2 linked regions of the Homo sapiens genome follow. The protein of the gene in region 1 interacts with the protein of each later gene in a pairwise test. Each region holds a gene or a part of one and is shown on either strand. Other genes may lie near its edges.

Region 1 (4,287 bases):
GGCTGCAGTGAGCCGAGATCACACCACTGCACTCCAGCCTGGGTGGGACAGAGTGAGACCCTGTCTCAGAAAAAGTGCCTGCAAAATACTGAACACGGAGCTGGAAACAAAGTGCTTAATAGGAGGGTTAGCTGTTACTGGTTACACGGAAGCCCGTGTCCAGGGGGCTTACCTGGAGGTCCAAGCGGGAGTCAGGTGGATAAAGGAGAAAGAGGTGTTATGTGGAATAAAGGAGGGACCTGGGAGCGGGGCTGAACTTTCAGAGAGGGGTCCTCTGGCTGGTTTCATAAAACTGGGCCTGAGCCTAGAGAGGGGGATGTGGAAGAAACAGCAGGGTCAGAAGCAGCCCCATTTTGGGTCCTGAGGCCAGAGAGGCTTTCACAGACCTCTAGGTGGCCAACCCAAACACCCGGGAGACCCAAGGAGGAGCAGATGGGTGGCTGGGACTGCTGTCCAGTTGTGGGGTAGGGATATGTCAGAAACTGGTATGGGCCTGCACATTCATTCTATTCATCCATGAATATTTATTGAGTTTGTACAATGTGCCAGGTTCTGTGCCAGTTTAACAGGTTATCACTGTTAACTGGCAGTGATTTAACAGGTTATCATCTGGAATGCATGTCCCCATGCAGAAGTGACTACACCAACTTATTAGACTTGTGGGGTGGATTTTCATTTTCCATTTCCTTTCTTAGATCAGTGAGCCCGTCAGGTCCCTGCTGAGGAAGGAGCTGACGCAGGGACGTCTGAAACTCATTTGTTACCCTGAGCATATAACAAATAGAACACAGTCACAGTATTAAAAAAACAGCAGGAATTAATTAGGTGCAGGCTACGACACGTATGCACCAAGGACATGTTTCTTTCATCAGAGTCTGCAGCTAGTTACTTGGAAAAAGCCAGTTATGATTGTAAAAATTTTATTCTCAATAACAATTCCACTAAAATTATACAAAGTACATTCAATACTTAAGAATGGCAAAGGTGGGGAGAGGAGGAGAGGAAGCCAGTTTGGCCTGGAAGCATCAACAGTTGACTCCAACAAAGGAAGCCCAGCTGGGCTGGAGGAAGTTGGGGGTGGAGGTCCGGTTGTAAAAAATAAAAAAGGGGATCGGTAAAAAAAGGCCACCCACAAGGAAGCAGAGTGAGCGTGCATGTTCCTGGGGGAGGGCAGGAGGCTCAGCTGACATGCTGCTGCTGGGCACTGGAGCTCAGGCGGGCTCCGAGTTGGTGGGGGGCAGGTTTTTATGCTTGAAATACTGCACAACTTGTTGGGGCAGCTCCGCCAGCACAGCTTTGGCCAAGGTCTCTTTTGCTGCCTGCAGGGTGGAGGAGGGTGGGGTGGGGAAGAGAGAGAATAAGGATTAATGACCGGAAGTTGTGAGCGGCACTATGCCCAGAGGGCTGCTACAGCAGGTGTCCATTGAGGACAAAATTAGGGCTGCGGGCCAGGGCTGTCTGCAAGTGGCATCCCTCATCTCAGCCCAGGCCAGGCCTGAAATTCCCCCTGATCGCAGTGCCTTCCTTTAGGTTAGGTGTAAGTGTTACCTGGAGCACTTGAGATGCTTGGGAGTAACGGGTTAGGATGACTCCGTCTGCGGGAAGCACCTATGTGTCCGGCAAACATCTCCTGAGCACCTTCTTGGCGGGAATAAATGGGCCTGACAGTATGGTTCACTAGTGAACAGCCAGCCACAGGCCAGGCACATGGAGGTACTCGGTCACCGACCTGTGCATGAAGGGGTGACCGATGCCCAGGGTTTGTCCTTAGGAAGCGAATGCTCCAGAGGAAGGAGTAGAACCATCGCAGGCAACCCCAGAGGATGCTGGGAAGAGAGGTGAGGGCCACTGGGTGCAAACCAGCATGGGCAGTTCTTGCTGAGGCTGGGTTAAGCCCCCAGCCAGCAGTATGGGGGTGGCATTACAGTACAGCGGTACAGTGGAGAGACTGCTCCCCTATGGGACTCCTCATGGACCCTGCTGCTAGGGCAGTGATCAGGAGGCCAACCCCGGCCTCCTTGTGGGCAGATCTGGGATCACCTGCAAATAAAGCCAGAGCCACTTCCAGGAACAAGGCTGGGGACACCATTCTCCCAGGCAGAGGGCTTTAGGGAGAGGAGGTCAACCTAAGATGACTGGGAGGCCTTGTTTTCCGTCTACAAAATGAGGGGGCTTGCTGGGGCGTGATGATCAGGAAAACCCCTCTCTCCTCCTGCACTTTACACCACATGGATAGCCCCAGCCTCTCATCAGACCCCACTAGAGGGCAGGTCCTCCAGGAAGCCCTGCCCCAGAGCCTCAGGCTAGATGCCCACGGCTCCATGTTCCATCAGTTTGTGGAAGCAAGTGCTCACACTATCACAATGGCCACCACCGGGGCAAGGCCTGGCACGGCGCCTGGCACATGGCAGGCCCTCAGAAGAGCATAGTCAATGGAGTGGAGAAGTCTAGGATTGGGCCAGACAACCCCAAGACTCTCAAGCTTGATTATGAGCTATGGTGGCTGGGATCCTGTAACCGCCCCCTCCCAGCCCAGGCCCACACTCACGTTGCGGAACTCTCGAAAGGGAACGAACTGCACAATATCGCGGGCTGCCTCCTCCCCCGTGTGGGAGCGCAGCATGCGGCTGTCCCCATCCAGGAACTCCATGGCAGCGAAGTCCGCATTGCCCACGCCCACGATGATGATGGACATGGGCAGCTTGGAAGCCTGCACCACGGCATGCCGTGTCTCCTCCATGTCACTGATGACCCCGTCCGTGATGATGAGGAGGATGAAGTACTGCTGCAGGGAGGGGGCCAACGGGGCACTCAGCAAGGTCGAGGCTCTGGCACCCCTTCTCCCTCCCTCCTTCATCCCAAACCCTCCGAGTCCTGGAGGAAGGCAGTGCATCTTACCCAGCTGCAGCCAAGTCCCAGACAACTCACTATGCGTCCTGCTCTCAGCACCCCACCCCTGCAGGCCTCTCATGCTCTAAACTCTGACCTGGTCACAGCAGGAAGTACAAACTGCTCTCCCCTCCTGCCCTGTGTGTTATCTTAGACTCCCCCTTGGGGCCTCTGAGAGCCCTGGACTCTGGGCCTGGCCTTGCCAGTTGCTATACTGTGGGACTCTAGGCAACTGACTTGACTCGTAGTGCCTCAGTTTCTTCATCTGCAAAGTGGGAGTTGTTGCAGATAATGTGCCTGACGTGGCAGTGGCCCAGTCAGCTGCATTCCCGACAGGCCCACGGCTGGCGCAGGGGGACTCATCTGGCTGATGGGCTGCTCTGGGACCGGTCTCCCCCTCTCTGCTGCACCTGGGCATGGGCACCTGTGACCCCCTCCATTCCCTACTCAACACGACAATCTGAGACACCTTGCGGGAGCTAAAGCAGGTCGTCTGGGCCAGGGCTTCCAGGAGTGTGGGACTCTGCTGACAAATAAGTGGATTTGAGTCACATCCCAAACACAGCACTGAGCACCATCAAGTCATCAAGTCACCCCGGAAGAGGACTGGTTTGCAGTGGCCTTTCAATTCTATGAACTGCACCCAGGAGCAAGTCTTGGTTTGGTACTACTGTGTCTTTCACGTCTCTCTAACATTTGCTAAGCTTCCTTATCAACGGAAAGGGAAGGCAGGAAGCCCAGAGCTTGAGGAGACAATAGTCTCCAGCTAGGCTTTAATACCATTGTACAGCTTGTTGTGTTTATTTTTGTTACTCTCTATTTATGGCAAGTGATACTGCTTTTTTTCATTTACAATGGGATATAGAGTTTCTTTATAAATTAAATTTTAAAAATTGAATAATTAGTGTGGGAGATATATAAAATACAAACTGTGAAGTGGGGCCGGGGTGTGCCTGAGTGAAGTGCAGGAAGGCTCATTGGACCATCTGAGGGTGAGGGCCCAGGATTCCAAATTGGCCAAGAACTCTTTTTTCTTTTTTTTTTAGACTGAGTCTCGCTCCGTCGCCCACACTGGCACAACCTGGGCTCACTGCAACCTCCACCTCCTGGGTTCAAGTGATTCTCCTGCCTCAACCTCCCAAGTAGCTGGGATTACAGGCACCCACCACCATGCCCGACTAATTTTTGTATTTTCAGTAGAGTTGGGGTTTCACCACGTTGGCCAGGCTGGTCTCAAACTCCTGACCTCAGGTGATCCACCCGCCTTGGCTTCCCAAAGTGCTGGGATTACAGACGTGAGCCACCGCGCCCAGCCAAGAACTTATTTTCAGCTCAGCTCTGTCCTTAGTACCCGCTGACCCCTTTAGGGGAAGCTCAGTTTCCCCCATCCGTAACATC
Region 2 (4,024 bases), on another chromosome or scaffold:
ATCGGTTGAACCCAGGAGGCAGAGGTTGCAGTGAGCCGAGATCGCACCACTGCCTTCCAGCCTGGGCGACAGAGTGAGACTCCATCTCAAAAATAAAATAAAATAAAATTAGGCAGGTGTAGTGGCATGCGCCTGTAGTCACAGCTGCTTGGGAGGCTGAGGTGAGAGGATTCCTTGAGTCCAGAAGTTGGAGGCTGCAGTGAGCCATGATCATATCACTGCACTCCAGCCTGGGTGACAAAGCAAGACCCTGTCTCAGGGAAAAAAAAAAAAAAAAGTATTGTCTAGTAACAACAAGATGCATCATAACATTACACTAGTCAGTATTATGTTGATGTTTTATCAATCATTATATTTGTTGATCCATGTTAGTTAATTTGGTGCTTTCTGGAAAATGTATTTAGGAATATAATGTTTTTTAATTAAACACCTTAAACCTAATACAAATGGTACTTTTACTGGGAGCATACACTTTTTAAATTGGAAGGGTGTAATTTGACTTTTCTTTTCTTTTTTTTTTTTTGAGACGGAGTCTTGCTCTTGTCTCCCAGGCTGGAGTACAGTGGCAAGATCTTGACTCACCACAACCTCCACCTCCCGGGTTCAAGCTATTCTCCTGCCTCAGCCTCCTGAGTAGCTGGGATTACAAGCACCCACCACCACGCCCGGGTAATTTTTGTATTTTTAGTTGAGACGGGGTTTCGCCATGTCGGCCAGGCTGGTCTTGAACTCCTGACCCAGGTGATCCGCCCACCTCGGCCTCCCAAAGTGCTGGGATTACAGGCGTGAGCCACCATGCCCGGCGTAATTTGACTTTTCTTTGCCAGGTTCAAATGCTGTGTTTACTATTTCTTGCTCATCTAAGTATTTTTTCACTACCAGCTTAATACCCCTTAACTTTGGAGACTTCTGCGTTATATTTACCATTCTTGTTCTTGGAGCATAATGAGGGTAGAAATGAGAGAAAAGGTATTTTGAAAGGACTCCCTTTTTTGCTTCCTGTAACTACCTCTCTCTCCTTCAGTTTTATATACTGTCTGAAATTCTTTTTGCCTTGAGCAAGTCACCCAGAAACCTACCACCTATGTATGAGTCATGAGATGCTCATTCTAGCATCTCCTCTGCCCACTAGCATACTCTTAAGATGCACAGCTTGGTGTTACAGTGGGAAAGGCACTATTACTGTAAGTCGCAACGCTAAGCCTGTTAGTAACTAAGGGTTTTTGGGCAAGTGATTTAATCTCATCTGAAATTATCTCCAAGGTCGAGAATCTATAAAATAGTTACTTATTGAGGGGTGTTCTTTGGTGAGGAGGGAGACCTGTGGGGAAGAGGCCTCTGGATAGTCTTTTACATCTTAGTGTGATTAATCATAGATTATTTCTCCTAAAGGCATTTTTAAAAGCTACTTATATGATAGGATTGAGGAAGAAATCTTAGGATGGAATTTAAAGGCCAGTAGAATATAAGCTTCAGTACAGCAGGGATTTTTGTTTGGTCCACTGATGTTTCCCTAGTGCGTAGAATAGTAATTAGTCTGTAACATGTACTTAATATTTGTTGAACGAGTGAAGAAATGAAGGAATGGGTTGCTGGGGAAAGATAAAATTTGTTGGAGTACTGCGCAGATGCTCTGAGTATCTTGAAGGAATTCAAAATGCAAACCAACCAGAGTACAACCCATCATTCCTACAATGTAAAAATACCTCCCAGCAGTAGCAAAGTGTCTATTGTTCACTTAATCGCCTTTCAGAACTATTAAGCGATTACTGCCCTGGCTGCCCCTCTTACTCACAGAGTAAGATTTTGACCATCACCACATACTTAAGTGCCAGCTTGACATTTCAGTATGCATTTTACTCTTACTTTCAAAAACCTATGTCCTAGCCATTCCCTGTGCTACACTTAATATAATCAATAACAGGACATTTACTGTTGTAGCAAAAATGAATTATATATATTGATTAAAATTTGGCCTTTCATCCATGGAGGATTCATGGCATAGCATTTAAAAACTGGCACTCTTCAGGCACAGTGGCTCATGCCTGTAATCCCAGCACTTTGGGAGGCCTACGTGGGCGGTTCACAAGGTCGAGAGATCGAGACCATCCTGGTCAACACAGTGAAACCCCGTCTTTACTAAAATACAAAAAATTAGTTGGGTGTGGTGGTGCACACCTGTAGCCCCAGCTACTCAGGAGGCTGAGGCAGGGGAGTCACTTGAACCCGGGAGGCGGAGGTTGCAGTGAGCCGATATTGCACCACTGCACTCCGGCCTGGCAACAGAGCGAGACTCCATCTTAAAGGAAAAAAAAAAAAAAAAAACTGTCCCTCTTTGCCTTCCTGTTCCACAACTGCCATATAAATAATCGTCAAGAATAGTTTTTTCACATATAATTCGTATACAAAGTTTCTCAGTAAGTCTATTTTGTCTACAAGATAAAGTCCAAATTCCTGACCTAGCATTCAGGGACTTCTGCATTTTAGCCAACTACCTTTTTATTCTTTTCCCTTACAGTGGCCTGTACTCAATAATTACTTAATTATTGAATAGTTGGTATAGAAAATAAGGAAACAAAAAGCAGTTATTCTTGCCTACAAAGTATGTTTCCAGTTGAAGAAAGTCTGGCAGATGGTTTTTCAAGAAGCCTGTATGGGTGGCATTCATTGTTTGAGTGAATTATCCATTTAGTGAAAAATAGCATTAGAGACAAGAATTCCTTAAAACTCCATGTAAACAGTTTTTTTGATCCTTGTTGACAGACCTGTTGGAAACTAGGTAATACAGTCTACCCTCAGCATCCATGGGTTCTCTGTATGGAAGCCATGAATACGGAAGGCTGACTAGGGGACATGAGTATCCACGAATTTTGGTATCTGAGGTGGTCCTGGAACCAGCCGTACTCAGATACTGAGGGACAACTGTAATAAGAAAAGAATTAAATATGTATATCTAGTGACATCAGTTTACATTGCAAGTAACCACTTAGTGGGACTGACTGAATCATTCTGTGCCCACAGCATTGCTTGAACAGTTCATCAGTCTGGATGGACTAGGTGATTTTGTAGTAACAAACAGCACCCAAATCTCAGTGGCTTATTTCAGAGGTTTATTTTTCCTCAGTTCATGTTACACATGAGCTGTCTGGGCCTGTGCTCCTAGTTTTCCTTGCTTAGCAATGTGGACAGGGGAGTCTTAACTTTCTGGCCTGTTGTTGGTTACCTGTTGATGGTTAGAGGTAAGGTAATGGGAGTGAATCACACACACTGGCTCTTTTTTTTTTTTTTTTTTAATTAAGTTCTGAGGTACGTGTGCAGAATGTGCTCTTTGTTACATAGGTATACACATACCATGGTGGTTTGCTGTACCCATTAACCCGTCATCTACATTAGGTGTTTCTCCTAATGCTATCCCTCCCCTAGCCCCCCACCCCCCAACAGGGCCCGGTGTGTGATGTTCCCCTCCCTGTATCCATGTGTTCTCATTGTTCAACTCCCACTTATGAGTGAGAACATGCAGTGTTTGGTTTTCTGTCCTTGAGTTAGTTGCAGTGAGCTGAGATCGTGCTACTGCACTCCAGCCTGGAGACAGAGCAAGACTCCATCTCAAAAAAAGAAAAAATAGATACCAGAATAAGTGTATCTATTCTAGGTACAATGAACATGGTTCCTGCTCTCATGGAGCTCACAGTCTAGTGAGAGGTCATGGGCAATAAGTGCATAAGCTAATTTCCAGATGGTGATAAATGTGGTGGGGGAAAAATACAGGGTACTGCTATAGAGAATGATTGTAAGTGAGGGTGGGGTTATTCTTGATTGGGTGGTGAGTGTGTGGGAGGAATATTTTAAGCAGAAAGAATGGCTCAGCCACAAAATGGAAATAAGTTTGAAATGTTGAAGGACAGAAGGCCAGTGTGGCTGAAGCATTTAGGAAGCTATTATATAGTCTAAAGGAGTTGGTGGTTTGGTCTAGAATGGTGGTAATGGAAATGGAAAGAAACGGACAGCTTGGGAATATATTATA

The links.
Region 2: the proteins of CPNE2 (region 1) and KATNBL1 interact in a two-hybrid assay, tested with the Homo sapiens proteins (one large-scale study listed by BioGRID and IntAct).

The regions. Positions count from the first base shown.
Region 1 is NC_000016.10:57,144,583-57,148,869, reverse strand, and holds the end of CPNE2 (copine-2), read right to left. Parts: intron 2,786-4,287; coding exon 2,549-2,785; intron 1,320-2,548; coding exon 1,212-1,319; 3' UTR 501-1,211; downstream 1-500.
Region 2 is NC_000015.10:34,203,291-34,207,314, reverse strand, and holds part of KATNBL1 (KATNB1-like protein 1), read left to right. Parts: intron 1-4,024.